Homo sapiens: one gene and its partner. The protein of the gene in region 2 interacts with the protein of the main gene of each other region in a pairwise test. Each region holds a gene or a part of one and is shown on either strand. Other genes may lie near its edges.

Region 1 (4,413 bases), on a different chromosome or scaffold from region 2:
TCCTGGGGTCTCCAAAGGGCTTGGGGTCGGGGAGTGGGGGAGCAAGACCATCGAGGGCAGGCTTCTTGCCTCCTACAGTCCCAGGTGTCCTTTTTGACGCTTCCTCTTCAAAACCCCTTTTGACCGGCTGTGGTGGCTCTTGCCTTTAATCCCAGCACTTTGGGAGGCCAAGGCAGGCGGATAAGTTGAGGTCAGGAATTTGAGACCAGCCTGGCCAACATGGTGAAACCCCATCTCTACTAAAAATATAAAAGTTAGCCAGGTGTGGTGGCAGGCACCTGTAGTCCCAGCTACTCGAGAGGCTGAGGCAGGGGAATCACTTGAACCCGGGAGGTGAAGGTTGCAGTGAGCTGAGATTGCACCACTGCACTCCAGCCTGGGCGACAGAATGGGACTCTGTCTCAAAAAAAACAAAACTCGCCAGGCACAGTAATCCTATAATCCTGTAATCCCAGCACTTTGGGAGGCCGAGGTGGGTGGATCACGAGGTCAGGAGTTCAAGACTAGCTTGGCCAAGATGGTGAAACCCCATCTGTACTAAAAACACAAAAATTAGCTGGGCGTGGGGGAGGGCACCTGTAATTCCAGCTACTCAGGAGGCTGAGGCAGAGAATTGCTTGAACCTGGGAGGCAGAGGTTGCAGTGAGCTGAGACTGTGCCACTGCACTCCAGTCTGGGTGAGACTGTGTCTCAAAAAACAAACAAACAAACAAATAAACAAACAAACAAACCATTTCACTGAAGACCAGTGCATTCCAGTCCTGCCTGAAACCTTCTATTTGCACCCTGGGCCACACAACTGAGCTGGGCACGGGGTTGAAAGGAGGTGGTCTCCTGGCTTCTGAACACCCTTGAGTAAGGCAGTTGGCCTTCAGCCTCCATTTACACATCTGTCCAGTGGGGTCTTGTCCAGTCCAAGTCCTCCTGGGCATGATGTGAGGGTTTGAGGAGAGGACATTGGTAACAGCGTCTTTCAAATGCCAGCTCCACCATCCCTCTCTCCCCTGCAGAGAACACAAACGCTTCAGGAGAAATTCAAGCCTGTGTCACCCGATCGCTCAGACCAGTGCGGCTCTGGCTGGAGGAGTCAGCAGCAGCTCCAGGCATGACCCCGGCACCCTCATAGGGCCCCTCACTACCCCCAGCACTGGGTCATTTCTTGCCAATAGGAAGGCTGGTGCTTCTCTCCCAGGCTGTCCTCGGGACCCTCTTCATTCTCTGATCTCATCCTGGAATGCATGAGAATAAAGAATAACCAAGTGGTATAAGCCTGGGCCTATGGGATAAGGATGGGGCACTCGAGGGGGCTCAGCAGGGCTTTCAGGTTTAGAAGAGGGAAGACCTGCCTTGGCTGGGCTGCCTGGGTTTAGCTTGGGGGAGTAAGGGCAGGTCTTAGGCCGGGTGCAGTGGCTCATTCCTGTAATCCCAGAACTTGGGAGGCCAAGGTAAGAGGACTGCCTGAGGCCAGGAGTTCGAGACCAGCTTAGGCAACATAGCAAGACCCTGACTCTACAAAAAAAAATTTTAAAATATAAAAGAAAGGAAAAGAAAAAGAGAAAGAAATGGCAGGTCCCCTGTGAGATAACCCAGATGACCCAGAGAGAAGGCCTGTATCCTGCCACACTGGCTGCCAAGATTGGAGATCATAAAATTTCCTGACCACTTCTCAGCCTAACACAGGGCTCTCAACCTTGAAATCCCATGGAAACTTTGCAAAGCTGTGGAAGCCCAGGTCCCATGCCCAGAGATTCACAGGTTCACATCTAATTCATCTGGGGTGAGGCCTGAGCTTTCAGAAAATTCCCCAGGTGATTTTTTTTTTTTAAGACGTAGTCTCCCTCTATTGCCCAGGCTGGAATGCAGTGGCGCGATCTCAGCTCACTGCAACCTCTGCCTCCCATGTTCAAGCGATTCTCCTACCTCAGCCTCCTGAGTAGCTGGGATTACAGGCGCATGCCACTGAGCCCAGCTAATTTTTGTATTTTTAGTAGAGATGGGGTATCACCATGTTGGTCAGGCTGGTCTTGAACTCCTGACCTCGTGATCTGCCCCGCTCAGTCTCCTAAAGTGCTGGGATTACAGGTGTGAGCCATCGAGCCTGGCCTTTTTTTTTTTTTTTTTTTTTTTTTTGAGACAGAGTCTTGCTCTGTCACCCAGGCTGGAGTGCAGTGGCACAATCTCGGCTCACTGCAACCTCGCCTCCCTGGTTCAAGCGATTATCCTGCCTCAGCCTCCCAAGTAGCTGGGATTACAGGCACCTGCCACCAAGGCTAATTTTTTGTATTTTTAGTAGAGACAGGGTTTCACCATGTTGGCCAGGACGGTCTCGATCTCCTGACCTCGTGATCTGCCCGCCTTGGACTCCCAAAGTGCTGGGATTACAGGTGTGAGCCACTGCTCCCAGCCAAGATCAGATGTTCTTGCATAATGGGCAGGTGAGCTCTGGAGTCACAGTGCCTGGGCGTGAATCTCGGAGCTGTGTGTTCTCAGGAATGTCACCCAAACTCTGTTCTGTTGGTCTCCTCACTTGCAATATGGGGCATTAACAGTACTTACCACCTGGGGTTACTGTGGTTAGTTACTGTGAGGATGAGATAAGGCGGTGGTTTTAAACTGTGGGTAGGATTTTGTCCTCCCTCAGCCCCACTCTTTCTTGGGGACATTTGGCAATGTATGACATTTTTGATGTCACAACAGGCAGGAAGAAGGCTACTGGCATTGAGTGAGTAGAGACCAGGGATGCGGTTAAGCATAGTGCAATATCACCATGCTACAAAAAAAAAAAAAAAAAAGAATTCAGCACCTGTAATCCCAACTACTTGGGAGGCTGAGGCAGGAGAATTGCTTGAACCTGGGTGGCAGAGGTTGCAGTGAGCCGAGATTGCGCCATTGCACTCCAGCCTGGGCGACAGAGCGAGACACCATCTCCAAAAAAAAAAAAAAAAAAAATGTTGAGAAACCCTGAAATACCACGATTCTAGCTAAGACCTCAGCAAGAGGCACATAGCACATAGTAAAGCCTCAATAAACACCACTGACCTTACTGAGGTTCTCTCTGCCCCCTAAGTCATAAGTAGGGTGGCCTCACCAAGGGTGTGGTTCTCAGTCTGTACCTCTGGCACTGGGAAGCCCCGCCTGGCCACCCTAGGATGCAGAATTAATCATAACTTCCAGATATGGAGCACTCACTCTATTCCAGGCCGTGTGCTGACAGCTTCGCAGCAAGCATTCTCTCCTGGCACTCCCCGACAACAGTGAGGTGTCTTGCTATTACTGCCATTTTAGAGGAGGAAACAGGTTCAGGGAGGATCACAAGTCATCAAGCTAGTACTGTGCTTAAACTTAGGTCTAGCTGTTCTTAATGTGCAGAAGAGTGTAAAGGGTTACCATTTTTAAAGAAAAAGTGGGGGCAGGGCATGGTGGCTCATGCCTGTAATCCTAGCACTTTGAGAGGCCGAGGCAGGCGGATCAAGAGGTCAGGAGTTCGAGACCAGCCTGACCAACATGGTGAAACCCTGTCTCTACTAAAAATACAAAAATTAGCTGGGTGTGGTGGAGTGCATCTATAATCCCAGCTACTCAGGAGGCTGAGGCAGGAGAATCACTTGAACCCAGGAGGCGGAGGTAGTGGTGAGCCAAGATCACGCCGAGCCGAGATCGTGCCGCTGCTCTCCAGCCTGGGCAACAGAGCGAGACTCCATCTCAAAAAAAAAAAAAATGTTGGAAGAGGGTGTGCTTGTTTATGTACAAAATGTCGCTAGATTTAAACACAATAAACTGGCAAAGATGGTTGTCTCTGGGGAGAATTGGGGACTTGGGAACAGGAGCTGAAGAACAACTTTTCAGTGTTGTGTTTGGAACCATGTGAATGTATTATGTATTCAAAATGTAAATAAAAATGAAGTTAAAGAGACTGTGCTCCTAACTAGGAGTGTTTGTCTAAGTTGCCTGGGTGTGAGAGCACCTGGGGTGCTTGTTAGAAATAGATTCCAAAGACACACCCAGACCTACTTAAATCAGAATCCTCCAAGGGCTTCGAAACCTGCATTTGACAAGCCTGGCTGATGAGTCGAGTCCCGGCCAGTTTAGGAACAAGAACCCAAGACAACAGGATCCTAGCCCAGAAATAATTCCAGCTGGATCTTGCATCCCTACAGAAGTAGGGAGGTGGCTGTCCTAGGGGAATACGTAAAAGATGTCCAGGACGGCCGGGTGCGGTAGCTCACGCCTGTAATCCCAGCACTTTGGGAGGCTGAGGCAGGTGGATCACCTGAGGTCAGGAGTTGGAAACCAGCCTGGCCAGTGTGGTGAAAGCCCATCTCTGCTAAAAATACAAAAATTAGCCGGGCGTGGTGGCTCATGCCTGTAGTCCCAGCTACTCGGGAGGCCGAGGCAGGAGAATCCCTTGAACCC
Region 2 (8,503 bases):
AAGCATAGGGGTTTTAGAATTCAACCTGAGTTGGAATCCTAATTCTACACATTATTAACTTTTCCGTGTACAAATTCTTGAACTTCTCTGGGCCTCAGTTTCCACCTCTGTAAAATGGTGTTCATCACACCCATCTAGTTCAGAGAGCAGAGCTGAGCGACAGGAGCTGCTTCAGTGGGAGGATTCCCAGCTCTCCTTACTCTCGCGGGCTGGTATGATATGAATGGCACCATGTCATCCCATTTTGGTAGGGCTGCCCAGATTGCCAATGCCATGTTGCATGTAAAGGTTTGTCTGTGGTCTGCAGAATGTCCAGCAATTTCTAAACCATAAACATTTTCATGGGTGGGAACAAAACAGAATGTCGGAGTTCATTTCTGTGATTTGGTCCCATTGCCTGGTTTTCATTAGGCCAAACCTAATTTCTTTCCAATTCTGAATATAGGAATCAGTGCTGACTTTCATTTATTTAATAAACTTGTTATGTGCCCGGCTCTGTTCTAAGCCCTTACATTTACTGATTAATTTACTTCCCATTCCTATCCTATGATATTATATATATACGTATGTATATACATACACACACATATGTACACACACACATAAGTACATATACATATATAAGCACACACACTGTATTGTTTCCATTTTACATATGGAGAAACAGACATAGGCAGATTAAGTAGTCTGAGGTCACACAGCTAAGTAGTGGCAAAGCCCAGATTCAAATATGGCCAGTCTGGCTCCAGATTCTGCACTGTTAACCGCCAAGCTGTACATGTCTCCTTGTTGTCCCACAGCTGTAAATTTGTGTTTCTTCTCTTTGCATGTCTGACTACCTTCCTCAGGCAGCAAGAACAATCTAAGAGTGTTCCTGTACAATCAGTCTGGTGATGGTGAGAAACAATATAATGAGTGAGTGGAAGGGCTACCTTGGGCTTTGGGAAAAGACCTAGGTTCAGTTTCCAACTCCTGTGTACTGTTAGCAAATTACTTCCCCTCTTGGAACCTCAATTTCATCATCCGTAAAATGGGAACAATAATAAAAATACCTTTTGGCCATTAGGGGGAGCTCAAGGATGACTTATACCCCAAAAGGGGAAGGATTGCTTATGTGGATTCTCAGTTCTAGTCATTGGCAACGCTAAAGGGCAGAGCTTTCCCCTGTTGTGGGCAAGGGTTTGCACGAGGGGGACTGGCCATCCCAGTTTTCCCAGGGATGAGGGGTTTCCTTGGATGCAGGACTTTCAGGGCTAGCGCTGGGACAGTTCTGGACAAACCAGGCCAGTTAGTCACCCAAGTTTGAGCCCTGAGCCTTGGGGGAAACCAGCCTTTTGGAACACTTGCCCTGATTTCTCCAGTGGGGCAGATATGAAGCAAGGGATATGGACACAGAATTTATTAGTAGAAAATGATTAAGGGCAGCAATCTTAGTATTGAGGGTTTTTTTATAGTAGCTTTATTGAAATAGAATTAACATTCACATACCATACAATTTATCCATTTGAAGTGTAAAATTCGATGAATTTTAGTATACTCACAGAGTTGTCCAACTATCACCACAATTAATTTTAGAACATGTTCATCATCCCCAAAAGAAACAGCATATCCTTTAGCTATCAACACCCACCTCTGCCCCCAATTCTCCCCATCACACCCAGCCCTAGGCAATCGCTAATCTGCTTTCTGTCTCTATGGTTTTGCCTTCTGGACATTTCCCATGAATTGGATCATATGATACGGTTTCTCCTCTTATACTAAGTAAAGGAAACGAGTACAAAAGACCACATATCATATGTTTTGTACTCGTTTCCTCTACTTAGCATAAGAGGAGAAACTTCTTCAAGGTTCGTTCATGTTATAGCCTGTATCGGTACTTCATTCGTTTTTTGCTGAATAATATTTTTTTGTACAGATATACCATAGTTTGTTCATTCATCAGTTGTAGACATTTGAGTTGTTTCTACTTTTTAGCTGTTGTGAGTAATGCTGCCATGAGCAATCATGTACAAAGTTTTTGTGTGAACATGTGTTTCATTTCTCTTGGAGTATACACTGAAGAGTGGAATAGTGGAGTTTCTGGGCCATATGATTACTCTGTGTTTAACCTTTTGAGGAAGTGTAAGACCATTTTCCAAAGTGACTGCACCATTTTACAGTCCCCAGAAGCAATGTATAAGGGTTTCAATTTCTCCACATCTGCACCAACATTTGTTTAAAAAAAAAAAGAGACAGAGAGATGGGGGTCTCTGCTCTTTTACCCAGGCTGGAGTACAGTGGTGTAATCATGGCTCACTGTAGCCTCAAACTCCTGGGCTCAACTGATCTTCCCACTTCAGCCTCCTGAGTAGCTGGGACTACAAGCATGCACAACCATACCCAGCTAATTTGATTTTATTTGTTTTAGAGACAAAAAATATGTTTTGTCTCTAAAACATATGTTTGCTATGTTGCTCAGGCTGGTCTCAAACTCCTGGCCTCAAACGATCCTCCTGCCTCAGCCTTCTGAGTAGCTGGGATTACAGATGGGAGCCACTGCATCTGGCTCTGCCTTTTTGATTATAGTGATCCTAGTGGGTATGAAGTAGTATCTCATTGTGAGCCGTCTTGTTTTGAAGTTGCATTGGTATATCAAACACATTTTGTAACTGGTTCTGTCTTTTTGATTATAGCAATCTTAGCGGGTATGAAGTGGTATCTCATTGTGAGCAGTCTTGTTTTTAAGGTGCATTTGCATAGCAAACACATTTTGTCACTTACGCTACTTTGGTTCATTTGAGGTAACTGATGAAGGTTATGGAAGCTTAAATAAACTCCTATTCTCCCCTTTGGTTTCACTACTAAGTCCTGGCTGCCTTCTTTGTCAGAGGAATGCCTGCAGGAGGTGGATTAGGCCCAGGGTCCTGCAGTCCTTTAAGGAGAGCCCTTGCCACCCTCCTGTTATTCCCCTAGTTTCCCTTTTCCTCACCTTTGTCTCAGTCCAGAGATGAGGGTGGGTTGCAGGGGGAAAGGGCTGATCAATCTTTTTGACTTTATGCCCCCTTTGTGGCTTTGACGTGGCCTGATCAGCTCACCAGTCGTCTTAGTCCATATGGGCTAATATAACAAAATACCATAAACTGGGTGGCTTTATCAACAACAGAAATGTGTTGCTCATAGTTCTGGAGGCTGGGAAGTCCAAGACCAAGGCATTGGCAGATTCTATGTTTGATGAGGACGGTTTCCTGGTTCACAGATGGTGTCTTCTCACTGTGTCCTCAAATGGTGGCTGTGGGCAAGGGAGCTCTCTTGGGCCTCTTTATAAGGGCACTAATCCCATTCATGAGGGCTCCACACTCATGACCTAATCACCCCCCATAGGTCCCACCTCCAAATACCATCACCTGGGGGTGAAGATTTCAGCATATGAATTTGTGGGGGACGCATACACTCAGACCGTAGCGCAAGTTGGGGACAAAAGCTCTGAGTGTCAGCAGGGTTGCACTGGCTTGGAAATGCTGGAAATCTGGAAATTTCCAGATCAGGCATCACAAACTGCATGATCTAGGGCTCACATTGCATTAACAATGTTGTGTTTGGTCCACAGTGTTTCAAAATTGGAAAACTCGACATAAAAAATCCAGCCTTCTGGCTTTTCTTTAAAAATGTGCAGGCCCAACCATGCTGTTTCCACCTTTCTGCATTGCAGTATTTGGCTGAGGCTGAGCCCTGGCTGCCCTCTGAAGACTGGTGTGAGCTTTCAAATCCCCACAGTTCCCGCCACACACTGTTGCATCACAGTGGGCCCTCTCCACACATTTGTCACCTGTCTCATACTTGAGAATATTTATTAGTGCCCAATTCCTTCAGGGACCTAACAGGGTGAACTTAGGCCATAGTAGGTAACAGGGCTAAATACAGACACTTGGGATCCTGGCTTTCCAGCCATCCCCATACCATCTCCTCATGAGTACAAGCAAGTTTCAGGTGTAATGTGGGCATCTAATTTGTGATTTGTGGTTCTTGATCACTTTTATGGGCCAGCCACTGTTCTAAGAGTTTTGCATATATTAATTCATTTAATCCTCCTAGGAACCCAATCATAATCCCGGTTTACAGATGGGAAAACTAACACCCAGAGAAAACACTTGCTCACAGTCCATGGGTAATAGTTGCAGAGTCAGAATTTGAAGTCAGGAGCGAATGAGGTCATTTTGCAAGGTTGCTCATGACCTAGTGTCTGGTTCATTATGGGGGTTCAGTGGGTGCAAGCTTTATAATATTCATCTAGTCTTGCCAACTGCTGCTAACGTGCTGCATGGCTGAGGTTTAGTCCCAGCCAGATGTCCCATCACAAAAGTTAGGCATTGAAGTGGATGACATTTGTGTTTAGAGAAATGATATGTCTCATTCTTTTCAGCTCTAACTTGGGGTAAGTTTCTGAAAGCAAGTAAGAGAAAAGGAGAGGGACATTTGTGATCTCTCATGTATAGAAGACTAACAAAGAGGCAGGTGGTCACACCTGAAGGCACGTCCCCTGACCCTTATTACATAATGCCATGGGCTAAATGTCCAAAATTCCTCTCCCAGCTCTGATTGGCCTGGCTACTATGATGAGTGAAGTCCACCAGGGAAGACACTGTGGCCTCGTTTCTCATCCTCCTGTCCCCAGGAGTAACACAGAAGCAGCTAGTAACACAACAGCATTGTCCTCACATACACAGGCCTGCTTTGTTTCCCCACCACACAGAGCAGCCGCTGTAACAATGGCCCCGAATGACACTTTACCCTCCTTTCTCCAATGTTGCACTTGTTTTTTTAGTCTGGAATGGGCTAAACAATGATTTCCTGCAGGGGGTATCAGCTTTTTATATTTTCTGCCTGCTTCTCTGTCAGTCTTCAGGCCCCAGGTCAGTGAGTGGCAAGCCAGGCCCAGAGATCTCTGCGCCCGTTGGAACATCCCCTTCTCGGGAGGCTGGAAGGCCATGGTCATTCACCTCTCCCCAGCAAGGTGGGACCTGCCCTGGAAGAAGAAACCAGACCAGGTAACACAAGAGAGACAATGAGAGCTTGGGGCTAGGGGGTGGGGTTGCAGGGGATGGCTGAGTATCCAGCCCAAGGAGGATGGGTTTCTGGCTTCAAGACATCCGATTTTCTTGAAAGCCACCATCTGCTGTTAAATAAATAATGAAAAGCAACAGAGGTCAAGTTCAGCAGCCTCCCAGTTAGAAAAATACCCTCTGTCTGTCTGGCCCTGTTCAGTGCCTCTGATATCTCTGGGTGACCAGGGTCTTCATGGCCCATGTAGATTTACTGAGGTGGCTGTTGCCTTAATAATAGCTGCTAGTACTAAGCTCTTTCTCTATGTATTGCATATGTATACCTATTACTGTATGTCTCTCATTGAATGAATAGTAATGATAGCAAACCCTTATACAACATGCCTCAGATTCTTGCTTCTTTCAAACCCAGGGAGTCGGGTTCTAGAATCTGCGCTTTTCGTCATCATGCCCCTTGTAAAGCATTTTTTTTTACAACATCCTGCTAATAAACCAAGGTCATCACAATATTTCACTTTGAGAGGCAATGATATATGATGATAGCTATGTGTATTGTGAGTCCTTTGCCCTGTGCCAGGCAGCATTCTAACTGTTTTGCAGCTATTTCATCAGATAGATACTTTATGATCTCTATTTTATGGATGAGGAAATTGAAGTACGGATAATTTAAGTCATTCACCCGGGGTCACACAGTTGTTAAATGGCAGAGCCTGGATTTGAATTCAGTTTTCTCTTAAGTAGTATGGGAATCTTAGACCCGCCCAGCCCTGCTGGTCTGGAGTTATTCTGCTTCTCTAGGTCATGGTGTATAGAGGGTGACATTCAGTTTCTGGCTTCATAGAACATCTGCACCCAAGTTGACAGCTTAAGGAATTTTTTCGTTTGTTTATTTTAAATGATTTTTCTATTGGCATCAGCTTTTGTCTTGCTTGAAGAAGATGGAATTGCTCAATGACGACAGTGAAGGAATTTGAAAGGGTAAGAATTGCTCAATGAGTGGTATCTCTTTTTTGGCCAGAGACCAGGCTAAGTTGCCTCATATGTAAGAGAACATACGTCAAATACACAGGACTCATGGTATATTATGGAAGCAAACTTTATTTTTGCCTATCATTGTCCCTAATTTTTTTCAGCAGGTCCTCCCTCTTCCCTTGCCCTGGGATGAAAATTAAGGTAGGTCCACAACTCTTATGGGCCCCCTTCAGGAATCAAAAGTTCTTAAGTCGCTTTTAGTTCCAGCACAGCCTCATTCAGCAATTGGGATGTCCAGTCCCAGGGAATCAGCCAGATCTTTGAATTTGGTTCCCAGTGGAGACTTTTCTCCCTCCTCCAGTGGGGCCTGCAGCTTGGAAAGGGGGTCTGTGGTTGGCTTCTCATTTCCCACGTTAAGCTTCCATCCTTCTCTCCTCTGGCTTACTGATGATTCTGACTCCTGGCAGGGGGAAGGGGAAAAGAGAAGAGGCAGGAAAGGAGCTGGAAGTCCGTACTTGGTTAATGCTGTGGCAAGCTGGCATTTCAGTGGCAGGTTCTGGTGGGTGTGTAAACCTAGTTCTTTCTCTCTAGGCACAATCTTGTGGATACTTCAGAGAGCACCATTATTTCTCATCTTTGGGGATCTCTGAGTTGCTGGTCCCTTGAAGCTGGTTGCCTAATAAGACTCCTTCCTTAGTTCCCTGGCATCTAAGCAGTGCCGTATTAGTTTGCTGGGACTGCCATGACAAAATATCACAGACTGAGGGGCTTAAACCAGCAGTCCCCAATTTTTTTGGTACCAGAGACCAGTTTTGTAGATGACACTTTTTTCCACAGACCAGGGTAGGGATGGTTTCAGGATGATTCAAGTGCATTACATTTATTGAGAACCTTATTTATATTATTATTACATTGTAATATATAATGAAATAATTACACAATTCACCACAGTGTAGAATCAGTGGGAGCCCTAAACTTGTTTTCCTCCAATTAGACAGTCCCATATGGGGGTGATGGGAACCAGTGACAGATCATCAGGCATTAGATTCTCATAAGGAGCATGCAAACTAGACCCCTCACATGCGCAGTTCACAATAGGGTTTGTGCTCCTATGAGAATCTAATGCTGCTGCTGATCTGACAGGAGGTGGAGCTCAGGTGGTAATGTGAATGATTGGGAGCAGCTGTAAATATGGATGAAGCTTCGTGCTCTCTCTGTCCCTGCTGTGTGGCCTGGTTCCTAACAGACCACAGACCAGTACTGGTCCATGGCCCGGGAGTTGGGGGCCCCGGGCTTAAACAACAGAACTTAATTTTCTCCCAGTTCTGGAGGTTAAAAGTCCAAGATCAAGGTGTTGGAAGGTTTGTTTTCTCCTGAGGTCTCTGTCCTTGGCTTGTGGATGGCCACCTTCTCACTGAGTTCTCACATGGTCTTTCCTCTGTGTGTGCATTCCTGGTGTCTCTTGGCATGTGCAAATGTCCTCTTCTTATAAGGACAGCAGTCAGAGAGGATTAAGGCCTACCCTAAGGGGTTCATTTTAACTTAATCACATTTTTAAAGGTCCTGCTTCTAAATGCAGTCACATTCTAAGGTCCTGGGGGTTAGGGCTTCATCATATAAATTTTGGGAGGATAGTTGAGGCCACAACAAGTGCTGTCAGCTTTTCTCTGAAGGTAAATTTCCATTCCTCCTGGTGGTCCTTGTCAGAAGGACCTACACATCCCAGAGGTTGGCCACAGTACATCTCTGGCTTATGGAAAATGCTCGTTTCATTATCCCAGGAAATCCAAAGCTACCACGTTCTCTCCACTCCAGCTGATCACTCCATCTCTCTTGTATTTTGGGATTCACAGACATGATTCAGACATCAGCCCTCAGTGACAGTCAACCTCCAGGGACACAGCATCTTGGAGGCCAATCTTGGAGGGTGGGTAGTGGGCAATTGGGACTTGGAGTGCTCCTATTGCTTTCTCCAAAATTCCTCCTCTACACCACCAACTGTTCTTCTCACCCAGCTTTCTTTGTGGGCTGAAGATGGTCAGTTAAGAGGGAAACCAGTTTCGTGCCACTTCTTTTGTCAGCCCTGCATGATGGCCTCAGTGTCACAGCTCACTTTGAAACATGTCTTTTGTCCTTGGCAATACCTGAACTGAGACCATAGTCATTTTTACATCCTGCTACACAAATAGCATCTCATTTAGTTTTCATAAAGAACCCTAGGAGTTCTTCTGCATATGGAAGAGGAATCTGGAGCTCAGAAAGGTTAACGAATTCACCCAAAAGAGATTATTCAGCGAGTGGCGGGGAGGGGAGTAGAGATTCAAGCTTTAACCCACTTCATTATTTACTTCTCTGGGCCTTCATCATCCAGGCTTCTTAGAGCTTTTACCTACTGGAGTTTGGTCTGTGCTGCTAAAATGTTTTCTTCTTAGCAGAAAACTATAAAGGTAAACAACAACAACAACAACAACGACAAACACTTCATCGCTGCT

Evidence for each region. The genes of interacting proteins can lie anywhere in the genome.
Region 1: the proteins of PRR5L (region 2) and MORN3 interact in binary tests that used the Homo sapiens proteins (3 or more experiments, as listed by UniProt).

The regions. Positions count from the first base shown.
Region 1 is NC_000012.12:121,648,242-121,652,654, reverse strand, and holds the end of MORN3 (MORN repeat-containing protein 3), read left to right. Parts: intron 1-1,010; 3' UTR 1,011-3,913; downstream 3,914-4,413. UniProt on the Homo sapiens protein: Assembles a suppression complex (suppresome) by tethering SIRT1 and MDM2 to regulate composite modifications of p53/TP53.
Region 2 is NC_000011.10:36,291,415-36,299,917, forward strand, and holds the start of PRR5L (proline-rich protein 5-like), read left to right. Parts: upstream 1-4,873; 5' UTR 4,874-5,024; intron 5,025-8,503. UniProt on the Homo sapiens protein: Associates with the mTORC2 complex that regulates cellular processes including survival and organization of the cytoskeleton.